Linked DNA regions of Homo sapiens: region 2 is linked to region 1. A link means that fine-mapping ties the variant in region 1 to the expression of a gene that starts in the linked region. Tissue or cell type: whole blood. Region 1 holds a variant in brackets; the other region holds the start of a gene. All regions are shown on one strand. Distances are from middle to middle.

What was found. PIP is the estimated chance that this variant, and not a neighbour inherited with it, causes the effect.
Region 2: it holds the start of ZNF596, and the variant in region 1 is fine-mapped to the expression of ZNF596 in whole blood (INTERVAL, PIP above 0.99).

What each region holds. Positions count from the first base shown.
Region 1 is chr8:207,662-215,853 of GRCh38, reverse strand. It overlaps the pseudogene RPL23AP53. Among named protein-coding and RNA genes, the nearest start is that of ZNF596, 21 kb to the left of the region's middle. The variant T/G (reference allele first, on the strand shown) is at 4,219.
Region 2 is chr8:229,150-237,341 of GRCh38, reverse strand. It overlaps ZNF596 (zinc finger protein 596), which reads right to left and starts at 4,886. Exons shown (of 6, transcript NM_001042416.3): 1 at 4,648-4,886. It also overlaps the pseudogene RPL23AP53. RefSeq lists an enhancer at 4,680-4,999 and a silencer at 5,020-5,119.

The DNA of each region.
Region 1 (8,192 bases):
GTATTCATGAGAGATCCGTCCCCATGACCCAAACACCTTCCACTAGGCCCCACCGCCCCACACTGACACAGTGGGGGTCAAATTTCTCAAAAAGAAATAAAAATTTTTTTGAGACTGGGTCCGGCTCTGTCGCCCAGGCTGGAGTGCAAATGTGCAATCTCAGCTCACTGCAACCTCTACCCCCTGGGTGCAAGCGATCCTCCCTCTTCAGCCTCCTGATTAGCTGTGACTACAGGCACATGCCATCATGCCCATCTAATTTTTGTATTTTTGGTAGAGATGGGGTTTCACCATGTTGCCCAGGCTGGTCTTGAACTCCTGGCCTCCCAAAGTGCTGCAATTATAGGCATGTGCCACCATGCCCGGCTAAATTATAGTTTTCCATTGAAACATAAAATTTCTCTCTGTAGTAACCATCATTTTTGATCATAATCAAAGTAAGACTATTCTTGTTTTAAAAATAAGTCTAGTTTTGTTAGATTTTGCTTGATTATTTACATAAGTGCAGCAAGAACAGGAGATGACCACATAGGTGCTTTCAAGTTTCTTTGCTGGAAGTTTTCATACAGAATCTCAGATTTGACTTTTAAAGGCCTTATTCAGGCTAAAACCCAAGCCAAGCACATACTATCAAATTTCAGCCGCAGTCCTTATGGCTTTGTGTGAATTCCTCTCTTCTTGAGGCCCCCAAAATATCCCCAAATTCCTGGGCCTACCGGGAAATGACCTTCTTTACTAACCTGAAGGCTGTGAACCCTGTAATCTAGGTATCAGGCTGGCTTTTCTCAGAGTGCTGTTGGGAATGAAGATTTTGGTGTTCCAAAAAAAAAAAAAAAAAAAAAACAACGTGGGAACAAATGATGTCTTAGTGAGGCGAGCTTTACTTTCTGCATAAAGGGTGCTACTCAATAGCTGTCCAGCCACAAGAGCACACCAAACAAAGGAGACAGAGTTACTTATAACCTGATGTGTCTACCCTAGTGCTGTGTCCAGTTTCCACTGGCTGAAATAGGACCTCACATTTTACACTTTACCCGATTGACTATTAGTTTAACACTTTCTTAATTAGGTAAGGGGAATAGAACAAAGAAAGAAAAGGAAGTTGCCCAGGGATAGTTAAGGAAGCATCTCCAAATAAGGAATGGCATGTATTATGGGCTGGGGCTTGTCTAGTTCTGCCCAGGCATGCTGGAGCAAGCTAGGACAACTGATTTGGAATACACACACACACACACACACACACACACACACACACACACACGTATATATAAAAATAGTGGATAGCAATCTCAAAGTAAGAAATTAGCTAGGATGGTCTGGATCTCCTGACCTTGTGATCCATCCTCCTCAGCCTCCCAAAGTGCTGGGATTACAGGCATGAGCCACTGCACCCGGCACAATATTTAAAATAATAATTGGAATTATGACTCATTACTCTATACTGGCACATAGCATGGATAAGGAGGACATAACAAATTTACAGGAATTTTATATCATTTCTGAAAACATAACATTTTACCCATACAAATGTAACACAGGGAAGGTTAGGTATCTCTTTTTATTTGTATCTTATGTATGGTTTTCCTTATAAAAAATACATCCTACTTTACTTGTGAAACATGCCCTACTTTTCTTGCATGCTTTGCATGGGGTTGTTTCTAGTTATTCCATTATTTCTAATCTTTTTATTTACATATACTGATTATAATTTTAATACTTAGTAATCTTTTATTTTCCAGAGAAAACTAGGAAGTAGTCAGTTATAAACTGTCATATATTAGCATTCTATAGTAGGTTAGAAAATGTATGAATATACTGTCTCCCAACATCTAGAGGGATGTATTTCCTCATAATACAATTTCTCAGTGTGGCAGAAAAAAACATGTTTATTAACGGGCCAAAATATCTTTAGTCTTTCTGTAAAAACAGGAAGCCAAAAGTATATAAACTTGAATTATTTATGTTCAGTAATTAATGTTTTAGTATTGTATCTTATTTATAAATGGTCTAGATATTTAATGCAAATCTTTTACTTAGCTTAAGTTTAAGGTTAAAAATTAGCAAAAGTAGTTTGGAAACTACTATTAGGCAGATTTACTGTGAACAAATTATTTTTGAAATAATGTTTTTCGCTTTTCACAAGACGGCACCGAAAGCGAAGGAAGCTCCTGCTCCTCCTAAAGCCGAAGCCAAAGTGAAGGCTTTAAAGGCCAAGAAGGCAGTGTTGAAAGGTGTCCGCAGCCACACGCAAAAAAGAAGATCCGCATGTCACTCACCTTCAGGCGGCCCAAGACACTGCGACTTCGGAGGCAGCCCAGATATCCTCGGAAGAGCACCCCCAGGAGAAACAAGCTTGGCCACTATGCTATCAAGTTTCCGCTGACCACTGAGTGGGCCGGAAGAAGATAGAAGAAAGCAACATGCTTGTGTTCTTCGTGGATGTTAAAGCCAACAAGCACCAGATCAGACAGGCTGTGAAGAAGGTCTATGACAGTGATGTGGCCAAGGTCACCACCCTGATTTTTCCTGATAAAGAGAACAAGGCATATATGTTCGACTGGCTCCTGATTATGAAGCTTTGGATGTTGCAACAAAATTGGGATCATCTAAACTGAGTCCAGCTGGCTAACTCTAAATACATGTGTATCTTTTCACCATAAAAGAATAATGTTTTTCATAAGAGTGACAACTTAATTAGAATCAAATCTATAAGCTTTAAGATTTTACATTTCTGTAAGTATAATATTAGCTTATTTGACTAGAACTCAAGCAGAATAGGAATTTATGTTTGTTTTATATTCAAGTGATAACTTTGAAGACATAGTTTTATTACACCAAAAATTTTATATTAATCTCATTTAAGTAAGTTTTATCCAAATCATGTTAACTTAAAAAACATTTGATCAGTTCCTATATTTCTAGGAGTTTGGTGAATATTTATTTATAAATGGTTATTTTTTTCCAAGCCAAGTTAGAATAGAGCACTTTTATAGGATTTTATAAATGAATTTTGCAGTGCTATCCGGAGTTAAGAAAATATCACATATACATTACATACAGTAATAGATATACAAACACAAATAGAGATTTCATAGCTTTCATCCTGAAATTTCAGCCATGAATCAGGCATAAATATTCTGATGGTTAATTTTAGACATCTACTTGATTGGATTAAGAAACATACATAGCTGGTCAAACAATTTCAGCCATGAAACAGGCATAAATATTCTGATGGTTAATTTTAGACATCTACTTGACTGGATTGAGAGACACACGTAGCTGGTGAAACACAATTTCTGGGCATATCTGTGAAGGTGTTTCTGGAAGACACTGAGATAACCCTGACCCAGTGTGGATGGGCACTGATATGGTTTGCCTGTGTCCCCACCCAGATCTCATCTTGAATTGTAGTTCCTATAATCCGTACATGTCGTGGGAGGGACCCAGTGGGAGGTGATTGAATCATGGTGGTTGTTACTGCCATTCTGTTTTCATGGCAGTGAGTGAGTTCTCATGATCCAATGGTTTCATAAGGGGCTGTTCCCCTTTGGCTCAGCACTTCTTCTTGTTGCTGCCATGTGAAGAAGGACGTCTTTGTTTCCCCTTCTGCCATGATTGTGAGGCCTCTGCAGCCACGTGGAACTGTCAGCCCATTTAACCTCTTTGTTCTTTATAAATTGCTCAGACTCAGGTATTTCTTCACAGCTGTATAAAAATGGATGAATACAGGCACCATCCAATTGGTTGAGAGCCCAGATAGAATAACAAGGAAGAGGAAAGGTGAATTATCTCCTGAAATTGAAACATCCTTCTTCTCCTGCCCTTGACATCAGAATCAGTGTCTCAGAGCTTTGGCCTCAGAATCAGAGTTACACCATTGGCTTCCCTGATTCTGAGTCCTTTATATCTGGAGTGAGTCATGCTGCCAGCTTTCCTGGTTCTCCAACTTGGAGACAGGCTATTGTGTAACTTCTCAGCCTCCATAATTATGTGAACCAATTCCCCTAATGAGTCTTCTCTCATCTATCTACATATATCCTATTGATTCTGCCTTTCTGGAGAACCCTGACTAATGTTATTACAATAATACAAAATTCACTAGTTTATATAGAAGACTTGGTTTTTGTCTTTGCCCCATTTTGTATTTGTATTATAACTGTGTATCTGGAAAATGGAACAAGTTTTTATCTTCTTCATATGAGGGCCAAAGCTTTTTTC[T/G]CACCAATATTTTTGGAGATTTTTAAGATTTTCTTTTGTTTGGACATACAATCTTATGGAGGCTGAGAAATAAAATTTTTTCTATTTTATTTTTCAGCCCCAGATGTTTGCTTTTGCAGATTCTTGAGCACATTGAGAGCATGGAGAGCACTCCAAGGCATGGAGTGGGGTGCCTAAAGTTTCAGTGATTACAGGGAGTTGAGAGACTCAACTGGGAAAGGAAAAGTCTAAAAGGAGGCAATTTGGAAGATAAAAATTTTCTCAAAGGAGCGATTAAATTTCTAAATAATTCTTAGTAAAATCATGTAAACAGGAAAGGAAATAGAATTAGTTCCATATTGGTGGAACACATAGCAGAGGTTTGAGAAGGGAGAATTTAGTCAACTGAGAAGTTCTCATGAAAGGAGCAAGTTCAAGATCACAGAGACACCTTGAAACAAAAAGCCAGGAATAACTTCCAACCCAAGAGGAGAACAGAGAGGCCTCAAAACCAAAGCTAGGATAAGAAACTTGTAGCCCAAGAGTTATCTTCCAGACAAAGAAGCCTGAGATTCCAACGCAGCTTCAGAGAGTGCTCACTCAAAATGTTACTGAAACTGAAGGCTTTTTAATGACTTAGCCATGCCTGCAAAAGGCATTCCCTAAGGTGGCACAGAAGACGGAGCCCCCATATCCAAAGATAGCCAAGGAGAAAGAAAGACCCCTGTTGCCAGAGCCAGTGGGCAAAGGCAACAGAAAAGGAGACAAGGGTCCTAATGGGATGAGATCCTTTCGGATTTAGGCTTTTATACAAACTCCTGAGAACTGGCGGGTTGACAGCCATAAATGGGGTACCAAACTTTCTACTCATTGGATTACAAGTTCTCAGGCATCCAGAATGATGAACAAAATGACAATTTCTAGGGCTTCTGTGGGAGAGTATGGAAAGGTCTTTTTGAACCTTTTAATGCTGTCAACGGAAGAATGATGAGGTTCATAAATTTGGAAAGGAGACATTTCTTCATTTTTATGTTTATTTTTATTTTTTTTGAGACAGAGTTTCACTCTTGTTGCCCAGGCTGGAGTGCAATGGCGTGATCTTGGCTCACTGCAACCTCCACCTCCTGGGTTCAAGCGATTCTCCTGCCTCAGCCTCCTGATTAGCTGGGATTACAGATGCCCACCACCACACCTGGCTAATTTTTTGCAGTTTTAGTAGAGACAGGGTTTCATCATGTTGGCCAGGCTGGTCTGAAACTCATGAGCTCAGGTGATCCACTTGCCTTAGCCTCCCAAAGTGCTGGGATTGCAGGCATGAGCCACCCAACCAGTGAGAGATTTATTTCCTATAAAGGGTTGTAGCCTGCAGGGTTGTCCTTCTGACAGGCTGGGAAGCATAGCCTCCAGCCAGAAGCCAGAAACAGACTCTTCAAGGAGGAGGTAAAGGAAATAGCAATTTATGCTGACTGGAATGGCCAAATACATTTATTTAATAAGCTCCAGGAGGAGTCATGAATATTTATGGAAGGAGAAATGCATGCATGCACAATTGAGTTTCTGGCTTCTTCATGGGTCCCATGTACAAAAAATGGCAGTGTTAGCATGATCCCAGGGTGGAGTTTTCAGCCCTCTGACATTAAAAGGTGAAGCAGAGGACATGAAAACTCGCTCTGTGCATCCTCTGTACGCTGGCCAGAACCTCTCTGTTGTGGGTGGTCTCTTATCAGGCAAGAAAGGAGAGGTTGATATCGGTAGTGGAGGCTTTGAAAGGGCTGGTTTCTGTTAAATCCTTAGGGAAGAAAGCCTCATCATGGTTAGCAAAGGAGTGGGTTTAACGATGTGTATGTTAACCCCATCATCCCATCCTAGCAAAGCTGAGAACTCAGTTTTGAAAGTTACTCTGTGGTCCCCTCAGCCAAGAGTGGTTCTGTTCAGTCAGTTGGGAGCTTATAATTTAATTTTTGTTTATCAATGCTAATGCGAAAGAGTACGCTGTCTTCATGGCAGCTGAATTTGCAAGAAACTCCTTGGATGGGGTTAATGGCAGCTGTATTTTTCTGGGAGCTCTGCTTTAATTGGACAAAGTAAGTTGTGGTAAGATTTCTTCTTTTATCTTCAGTATCTCAAATGTTTTCATTTAAATAATCTTTATAACAACTTTTGATGTCTGAGTGGATTCCCATACAGTCATCTATTGTAAGACTTTCTGATTCCGTTTTTTTCCTTTGGTCATTATGAATAGGGCTTATGTAAATAATTGCATGGTAGCTTTTGATTGGAAATAACATCAAAGTAGTTGTCAAAATACTTAGGAATGTTATTTTTGGATTGTAAGGTGAGACTTGTTTAGCTTTGGAAAAAAATGCCCAACTTGTAATAGGGGAGGAAAAATAATTTTCTGTTTTCGGAATTCTTAGATGGGATGCTCTGTAAAAACTGACAGATTAAAATGAGAAAAACAGAAAAGTTGAAAAACACGTATACCTTATGGTTACATGGGAGATATTCAGGGAAAAATGAGTAAATCTCCAACAGGTGGCTTTCAATTCAAGCATAAATACTGTCTTCAACTTAAAGAAAGAAGATTTGAGGTGCAGTATTGGGGAGTTAACCAGCAAAAGCACATTAGACAAGGGTAAGGTTCATTATACAGACTTAAGTCCATGCATTCTCCATTGATAAGACTCTTTAGTGATTTAGTTATCCTTCTCTTCTTGGTGTCGAGAGAGGTAGCTTTTAAATGGTGATTTCCTTTATAGATGTAAATTTTCCTTACACAAGTGTAACTTCTCTGTTTTCACAACTTCCTTTGTTAGCATTTTTTTTTTTCAAAATAATTAGCTTGGAATAATTCTTAAGCCAAAGGGACATATTTTGGGGTTGCATATTCTGGTTTCCTACCATTATATTTTGGGGTGGCATATTTTGGTCTTATACACTGTGTTCCACCGGCAATGAAAAGAGTTCTTGTTTTTCCTCCAGCAATTTGTCATTTGTTAAAGAGTTTAGCAGTTCTAAGAGATATAGACCAGCTGTGCTATCTTTTTGTGGTTTTCAGTTCTCTAGTATGTTGAGCATCTTTTTGTAAGTGTACTTGCCATCTGTAGATCTTCTTTGGTGAGGCGTCTGTTCAGATCTGTGTGCATTTTTAATTGGGCTGTTTAACTTATTGTTTAGTTTTAACAATTTTTTATGTATTTTGAATACAAATTCTCAGATCTGTATTTTGCAAATATTTTCTTCAATATGTGGCTTGTCTTTTGGTTCTCTTAACAAGGTCTCTTCCAGAGTATAAACTGTAAATATTAAGAAATCCACATTGTCATTTCTTCTGTGTATATCAACCTTCTGTGTCATTTGTTAAAATTCATCACCAAACGCAAAGGCACATAGCTTTTCTTCTATAGTTTCTTCTAGAAATTGTATAGTTTTGCATTTTTAGTGTAAGGATGATTTTGAGTGGTTATTTGTGTAAGTTGTAAAGTTTTCATCTACATGCATATGATTTCTTATGGTTTCCAATTAATCATTCCCTCACTATTTTTGGGAAAGACACAGGATAGTGGGCTCTGTTAGAGTAGATAGCTAGCTAGACGTGAACAGGAGGGGGAGCTCCTGGAAAAGGGAAAGTCTGTGAAGGCTCACCTGGAGGGACCACCAAAAATGCACATATTAGTAGCATCTCCAGTGCTGGAGTGGATGGGCACTTGTCAATTGTGCTTAGGAGGGAGAAGAGGTACCTACACAGAAACACCCTAGAACTTCTCTTAAGATGCCCCAATCATCATTCACTGCAATAAAAATGTCAGAATATTGCTAGCTACATGCTGATAAGAAGGACAAAGGGGACATTCCTAAGAGAAACCTGGCACCATAAGTACAGATTAGGGCAGAGAAAGACATTCAAAAGAGGCAGGTGCAGTAGATACAAACGTGACTGCTGTCAGCCTGCCTGGGATGGCGGGAAGGAGGTTGGTGCCAGAGTGGATTCAGAT
Region 2 (8,192 bases), 21 kb before region 1:
TAAGACTTAAAAAGATAAAACAATTTAATAAATAATAAAATAATGTAATGAATGAACAGATTTGACAGAAATCAATAATTAAAAAGTTTTGAGAGCAAAATCATGAAACTGAAAAGACCCACGGTGGAAAGAAAAAACACAGGTTAATAAAAGAGACTGTATTTATTTAAAAGTAGTAATTTAAAATCTAAGAAATGGGAATAATTATATTCCAACATGAATATGTATATTACTTTCCACAAAAAGAGTAAAAACTTTCCCTCATTAATCAGCACAAAAATCTGATTAGCCAATTTTAATGTTTAAGTTATATATCAGAGTTTAACTGTAAAAGTGATTTGTGAGAGTTCTTACATGTGAAATCACTTCTAGTTCCTTTGTAACCTAAGTTATTTTGAAGGAGAAAAATAAGCCTGTCCTCATTAGTTTATTATGCTAATCAAAATGAACATGAATGTAACAATAACTACAAATTTAACCAACAATTTTCCTTACTTACATTTGCAAAAATCATCAATACAATTTTAGCCATTTGGCTATTTATTTTGGCCACCTGGCCATCACTGGTATGGTTAAATAATGACAGAGCATGGTAAAGTGGAGTTTATTGCAATAATAAAAGGATAATTCCATACTAGAAAACCTATCATTTTCACAAAGTAATTTTAAAGATTAAAAAAATCACATTAATAGACCTTTGAAAAAACATTTTCATATAATTTAAATCTTTAAAAATAATATAAAATCTTTAAAAATCATACCAAATTGTGGGGACTAATTCTTCTTAATCAATAAAATCTCAACAATATATTCAGCAGTTAACAAAAGAACCATTTCCACTAAAGGTAAGGCTGGAAAAAGGAGGCTGGGTGAGGCTGATGCCATTCACCACTGCACATGATGCCTGAGGTGGGACCAAAACAAGAGGGAAAAGGAGAGGGACTACAAAAATGGAGTCAAAGAGCTGCAACTGTAGTTATTCTCAGATGACGTGACTGTAAACTTGAAAAAGTGGAATCAATTCTAATTATCAATACTAATAAGAATATTTAAAAAGTGGGCAAAACTATTATGAATATTCTGAAATCAATATTTCCTGTTTAGCAACATTAGTCCTTAAAAAAAGCAAACACACAAAATCAGTGTCTATTTACAACAGGCAAATATTATGACTACGATTTGAAATAAATTTGTAGACCCATGTAAATAAATTTTAAAACTTAATGAGGATATAAAAATGACATGAATAAAGCCTGAAAATCCTATTATTAGAATGGAGGACATAGTGACATAAAACCTCAGTGACTGTAGACTCAGGGCAACCTAGACTTAAAAGTCCCATGTGGTCTTTTACATGTAAAAAATGAGAATTAGTCTAAAAGTCAATTTTGTCTAAATTTTGATTTTTGGTGAGTATACAGTCAAAATAGTTGTGAAAAGAAAAAAATAAAGTTGTCAAATTTCATGTAACCTATGTTATTTGGAAATTTAAAATAAGTCATATAAATATTTATAACAATATTAAACAATTTCATAAGTGGACTGAATAAAACATAATATTTTATCATATACAATAGCTCCTGCCTTCCTGAGGAAAACATAAAATCAAAGGGCGTGAAGGAAGGATTTTGGTTTCACTGCAGAAACATAATAAGACACCGAAGTGTGTGTTTGTGTGTGCGTACATATAATTAAACTACAGAATATAAAATAGCATCTAATATACATCAAAAATGAGTTTCATAGAAAAATTCATTTTACACATATGTCTATAAAATAATAAAATTTATTCAGCCTCACAATTACTTTGTGAACTGGAAATAACAATGAGTTGTCATTTTATCCAAATCTAAAAAAAAAAAACATACATACAGTATCAAGTTCTGGTTAAAGTAGTAGATGAACTTTATGTGGTACATAAGAGTATCTATACAGTTTGTGGGCTGCATCTTGCTAGAATATATTACATTATAAAATGCACCATTTATTTACTCTGCGATCAAACCCCCAACTTGCCCCAAGTGGAGGAACCCTCAGACATTTGCAGAGCAGTCAGTGTGCTAGTAAGCAGCATTCTTTACAAATCTATGAACATCAAGGTCTCCTTGGAACAGATGTTCTGTGAACAATTTATAAAACTCCCTCCTGTTAGACACTTAGGTTGATTCCATTTTTAAATCAATTACTGAATAAAACACACTCCATCGTGTGGATGAAATGCTACCTTAATTTGTCAAAGCTATCATTTTCTAAACTTTTCTTTTTAATTCAAATCATTAATATTTTGTGGCCAGATCAATACTGATTCATTGTTTTAAGCTTCAAATGCATTATACAGTTGGGCAGAACACATTTCCTCTCATCAATCTTCTTTTCCAGGATTTGTCAGATATTCCTGACATTAATTCACTACTAATATGCACAGTTTCTCTAATCATGGTCAACAAAGATCTGACAGTGCATTGTCCCTAAACGACCCATACTTGCCTCACTGACACCATGTGGCCCACTTCCCATCTATAATCTATGTCTGGGTGTGAAGCCCTTCCCATATGATCCCCCGAATGGAACTTCACAAGTTCGAATTCACTGGGTCACAGTGTGATAGCGTGAAGATGGGAGGACGTTAAGGGAAGGCTATGGGTGAGTTGGGAAATGTGTTAGGCAGGGTCAGAGATTACCACATCCTAAAAACAACACTTAAGGCGGGAGATGACAAAACAATCAATGAATAACATGACTTTTTCCAGTGAAAGTGCCATATCTAATCCTTTTCCATTTTTGTTCTCTGAGCTTCTTTCTTAGGGAAGATCCTTCTTGAGAAGCCCCTGCTGAGTATTAGGAAAATGCATTTCAGGACCTCTCATCAACACACCCTCTTTCTTTACCACAACCACATATATGGGGGCATAACTCAACATGTGTAAAAGACAATCTTCTGCTTTTCACTGAACCTCCAGGAATTCAGGACAATAAACCTCTACATGCAGACCAACAGGTGAGTTTTTCTGCCCCTTCTTTCATAACACCGTTCTTCCCTAGTGAAGTCCACACACATCCTTACATGGCAGCTGTGGGTATATCAACTGGTCTGACCCCTTTTAGTCACAGAGCCTGAAGTCTGCTAGTACCTGCTGAGCACAGTGTCATGGGTGAGAATGGGCAAGGCTTTTTCTTTCTCTGGTTCCTGAACTTCCCAGGCTCTCTCACTTCTGGATCCTGAATACCCAAATCCCAAGCTTCCTTCCCAGAACCAACACCTCCTCCTCATTAGAAAGATACCTTTGTTGTGTGCTTACTTTATAAAGTCTTGCTCTTTCCCTGTCCACTGCCTTGTGTCACTATGTGTGTGTCTTGGGGCCGGTGGAAAGGTGAACAGAAGCCAGTAGAGAGTAACAAGCACCAGCTTCACAGGAATGGCATGACCTTAATACGATAGTGGCAGTTTTCCCTTAACATCCCTGCCCCCTAAAGATTTCAGATCATATGTCACACTCTTAAGTAACAGCGATTTGTCTTTCACGGTTTTAATCATATTGATTAAAAGCATTTGTCTTCTCCAGAACATCACATTAAGTCATCAAAAAATATAAACCTTAAAAAGATGTAATTATTGGAACTGAAAAACATAAAAGGTGAGCTTTGGAAATATCTTTGAGCAGTCTATTCATTATGAACACATGTAATCTGTTGGAACAAAGTTCTAGGACAATCCAGGTCATCCTTCAATATTTGCAGAAAACAGCACAAAGAAAACTTGATACTTAAACTTAGTTGGAAACTTTATGCCACAGCCATTAAATACAGAGATCATATAAAGGAATAGAGGAAGCTGTTGAATACTAAACTAACTCAAATCATCATTATCCTTACGAAGTGCACACTGAATTAATGTAAAAAGCATTTAGTAAACAAAAAGTATTTTCAATATACAATTAAGACTGAAAAGTATTGAGGCCTCATAAGCTGAACCTGACACAATAAATTTAAAAGGGAAACTAATTTGGAAATCAGAAAACCATCTAAAGAATTTGGGAATTAGGCTTCTGCTGCCCTCTCTGCTACTGACGGTCAAGGCCTCCTCATTGTATTCTGTCCTCCATATCTCTGCTGATTCCCATTTTGTCTATTTCCATTTACCCCACTACTACTTGCTCAGGTCACTCTCCTTCATTGTCGGTGTTTGTTCAAATTCCTCAGACCCATCCACTTCCCATCTAAACTTCCCTCCCCTTTTCTCGCTCGTTGGCTCTACCTCCCTCCTCTGTTTTCTCCTCACTCTCCTGCCCCACCTCGACATCCACAGCGAGGCAATGAAGAAGCCCCTGCCAAGGAAGAGCCCGCTTCTCAGTGGGACACCGGGAAGGTAAACACCCAACAGTCACCGCTAGTGGGAGGCGATTGTGCAGAAGCACGAGGGTTGTTACAGGATCGGGCAGGTCCCCTACCCCAGTCTCGGACTCAGGGTCCTGTCTGAGGCGGCCACCCCGAAGCGTGGGGTTTGCGGAGACGTAGGGCCTGGCGGAGGGAAGGATGGGGAAGCATCTCAGGGAGGACTGGCGTCTGCCGAATCCCAGGGCTGCCCTGAGGGGCCAAGAGGGGCGAGGGTGGGGACGATGGAAGACAAGCCACATGCCGAATCGGGACCTGAGGCCGCGCGCGATAGGATGGGCGGACGGTGAAGAGAACTAGGGTGGAAGGGCCGGACAGGGGCGACCTCAGTGACGGAACCGGACACAGACGCAGATCTGGCAGCTGGGCGACAGGCTTCGGAGCATTTCCGGGCGTCGCGGGACTCCCCGCCGACAGGAGGGCGGTTGCCGAGCCTGTGACATCCGCGGAGACCAGCAGACCCCGGGTGTGGAGGACGCCGCAGGAAGGGAACTGCGTGGCTGGGTTTGGCCACAAAAAGCGGAGGGCACTCACCCGAGCGGACCTCGGCTCCGGAGAATCCGTTTCCGGGTCAACAAAAAACGTCGCGCGAGGGGCGGGGCCCGTACGTGCAGGGAGGGGAGGCAGAGAAAAAGGCGGGGCCGGGCCGGGGCGGGGTCTCGGGCAGGGGCGGGGAGCTTACCGACCTCCCGCCCCCGCTGCGCGCGTTTCTGGCCCTGCCAGTGTCTCCGCCGGTTGAAAGCGCGTGTCTGCGTCGGGTTCTGTTGGAGTGCGTTCGGTGTGCCGTGGGTCCGCGCTGCTTCCACCCAACTTCCTGTTAGGTAAGAGGCGCGTGAGGCTCCTGTGCCGGGGGCGGTGCTGCTCCCGAGTCGGCGCGCGGCGGGGACGCGAGTCCGTAGGTGCTGGCGGGAGCGAGAGTCGGGTGGGGACCCTCGCGAGCCCGCACTCCGCCTCTGGGTAGCAGCCTCTTCGGCCCCACACGGCGTGACGCGCGCTCGGGCTCCGCGTTCGCGTCGAGGCAGAGGCGTAGTAGGGGTCGGGCCCAGGGCTGGAGGGGCCGGGACCGGGCGGGGTGCCGCCCTGGACACCGCGCCGGCAGCTGTTCCGCGCGGGTTCATGTCATTCCTATTTTCAACCTGTCCTGCTCCGCACCTGAGATGATTTATAAATTCGGTACCTTTGGGACAGGCGTGGATGACATCCCATAATTTACTTCGTTATTAATTTCTAAATGTAATACATACCACTATCTAAAAGTATTTTTTAATTTGAAATATATTTGTATACGTATACATGTATATTTATTTATTTCTGAATTTTATCTCGTACATATAATGAGGCTCGTAAAGTGGATACTGTTCAGGACATAGGTGGATTTTGCTTTTAAGTAGTAAAGACTTAATTGGTGACTTACTGGGGCTATTTGATAAGGATTTTTTTTTAATGAACATTAAAAACAGTGAAATTGTATTTCCGGATTTCGTTAGCTTCATTTATATCTTAATTGGTGAAAACTGTAAGTTAATAACTCATTTTTATTTCCTTTGGAGATTCTTAAGTTTGTGCTACCAATGATTATTTCCAAAAAAGGCACACTTCTGGTTTTCCCAGAACTAATGCTAGCTTCTCAATCTTTTGAGTTTACTTGATATTAATGTTTGACCTCAAATCATGTCACATTTTTGAAGAAAACTTTCTCTTAGCCAATGGAACATAAACCACCCTGGAGTTCATATAGAGGAGGGGTTCAAATGCCTCTGATAGTGTCGTGTTAAAACTCATGGCCAAACGCAAGGTCACATAGCTTTCTTTCTATGTTTCCCTCTAGAATTTGTATAGTTTTGTCATTATAAAATGGGTCTTGTCCTAGACCCCAAGAACAGGTTTTTGGATTTCACATGGGAAAGACCTTTTGGCAAGTCACAGAGTATAGTGAAGTTAAGATAGTTTATTAGTGACTACTCAGCTACATAGCAGGGCGTCCTCAGAAAGCAAGAGGAGAAATGCACCTGTTGTAAACATATAATTTTTTTTTGAGACAGAGTTTCTCTCCTGTCACAATGGCATGGTCTCGCCTCACTGCGACCTCTGCTTCCTGGGTTCAAGGATTCTCCTGCCTCAGTCTCCCAAGTAGCTGGGATTACAGGTGCGTGCCAATATACCCGGCTAATTTTTTGTGTTTTTGGTAGAGACTGGGCTTCACCATGTTGGTCAGGCTGGTCTGGAACTCCTGGCCTCAAGTGATCTGCCTGCCTCGGCTTCCCAAAGTGCTGGGATAACAGGCATGAGCCACCCGGCGCCCGGGCTTAATGTTTGTTTATATAGGTTATTAAGAATCAGTTTGTGACAGGCTATTAGTATTGTTACTTCTCTTTGTTACTGTCGATTTTAACAACAATTTATGTGTGTACTGTTACCTTTAAAGTAAAACTTATTTTTAAACTAAGAATGCTTTTTGTTCTTAAAGTTCTGGGACATTTAAATAACTTTCATGTCTTTATTAACTTGTTCCCACAATCATAAATATTTTATAACGAAAAGTGCTCAACCCCCGAAATATATAATCCAACAAATTTAACGTGTGTGTGTGTGTGACAGAGAGAGAGAGACAGGGTCTCACTCTGTCGCCCAGGCTGGAGTGCAGTGGTGCGATTATGGCTGGCTCATTGCAGCCTCGAACTCCTGGGCTCAAGCAATCCTCCCGCTTCAGCCTCCTGGGTAGCTGGGACTACAGGTATGTGCAAGCATGCCATCTAATATATATATATATTTTTTGTAGACATAAGGGTCTTGCTATTTGCCCAAGCTGGTCTTCAACTCCTGATCTCAAGTGATCCACCCGCCTTGGCCTTCCAAAGTGCTGGGATTACAGATGTGACCACTGCACCCTGCCCAGATTTAACTTTTTAAAAGCCTTTATTTGAAATAAAGTCACTGTGGTTAAGAGGCCTCTGACGGTTTTGCATTTTAAGTCTGAGGACTATGTTGAGTGACTTTTTGCATAAGTTGTAAAATGTGCATTCATGTTGATTTCATTTCCTATGGTTTCCAATTAATTGTCCCTTCTGCATTTTTAGAAACTCACGGGCTAATGGGCTCTGTGTCAGTTTGCATTTCTAGAATGATGGCGCCGAACACTCCATGCTGTCTTTTAGTTGGTGCAGCAGGAGGGGTAGCAGAGGGCGCTCAGCTTCCGACAGTGCCTTGAGCTCTAGGGCGCTGCAGTGCCCCCGGCCGCCAGCAGAGCACGCGCGAGCCCGGCTTTTCTGAGCCTTGAGGCGGCCGCATCCCGCACGCTTCCTCCGCGCCTGCACCCTGCAAGGGCGGGAGCCGCGTTCTCCTCAGCACATACCAGGAAACGCCCCTCGCTTTGGGACACCTTGAGCCGGCGGCGTCCATGGTTGAGTAAAATCCTTCCTGTTTTCAGCCCTGACTGCTGAGGGGTAGAGACCCTTCATGTGGAAAATTAGAAACCAAAATCCCCTGTGAATCCAGCGCACTCGAGGTTCATTCTCCACACCCAAGGCGAGGCGGCCACAGGGCCAAGCTGCGGTCTTGGAACAGAAATGTAGTGTCAGGAAAGCAACTAGAACACCCGCCACACTGACAATAACCTCTGTAGTGCTAATAACACTGCATCTGTGATGCTAGTGTTAGCACCCGTCGTATGCAGAGAGCACACCCGTCGGGGTAGCTGCCTTCCACATCCAACCCCGGGAACGTGGATGTGTCCCTCAGTGCGCACATAACGCTTGGAACGCGGAGATGACATCGTCACCTAACGCTACAGCCGTCACACT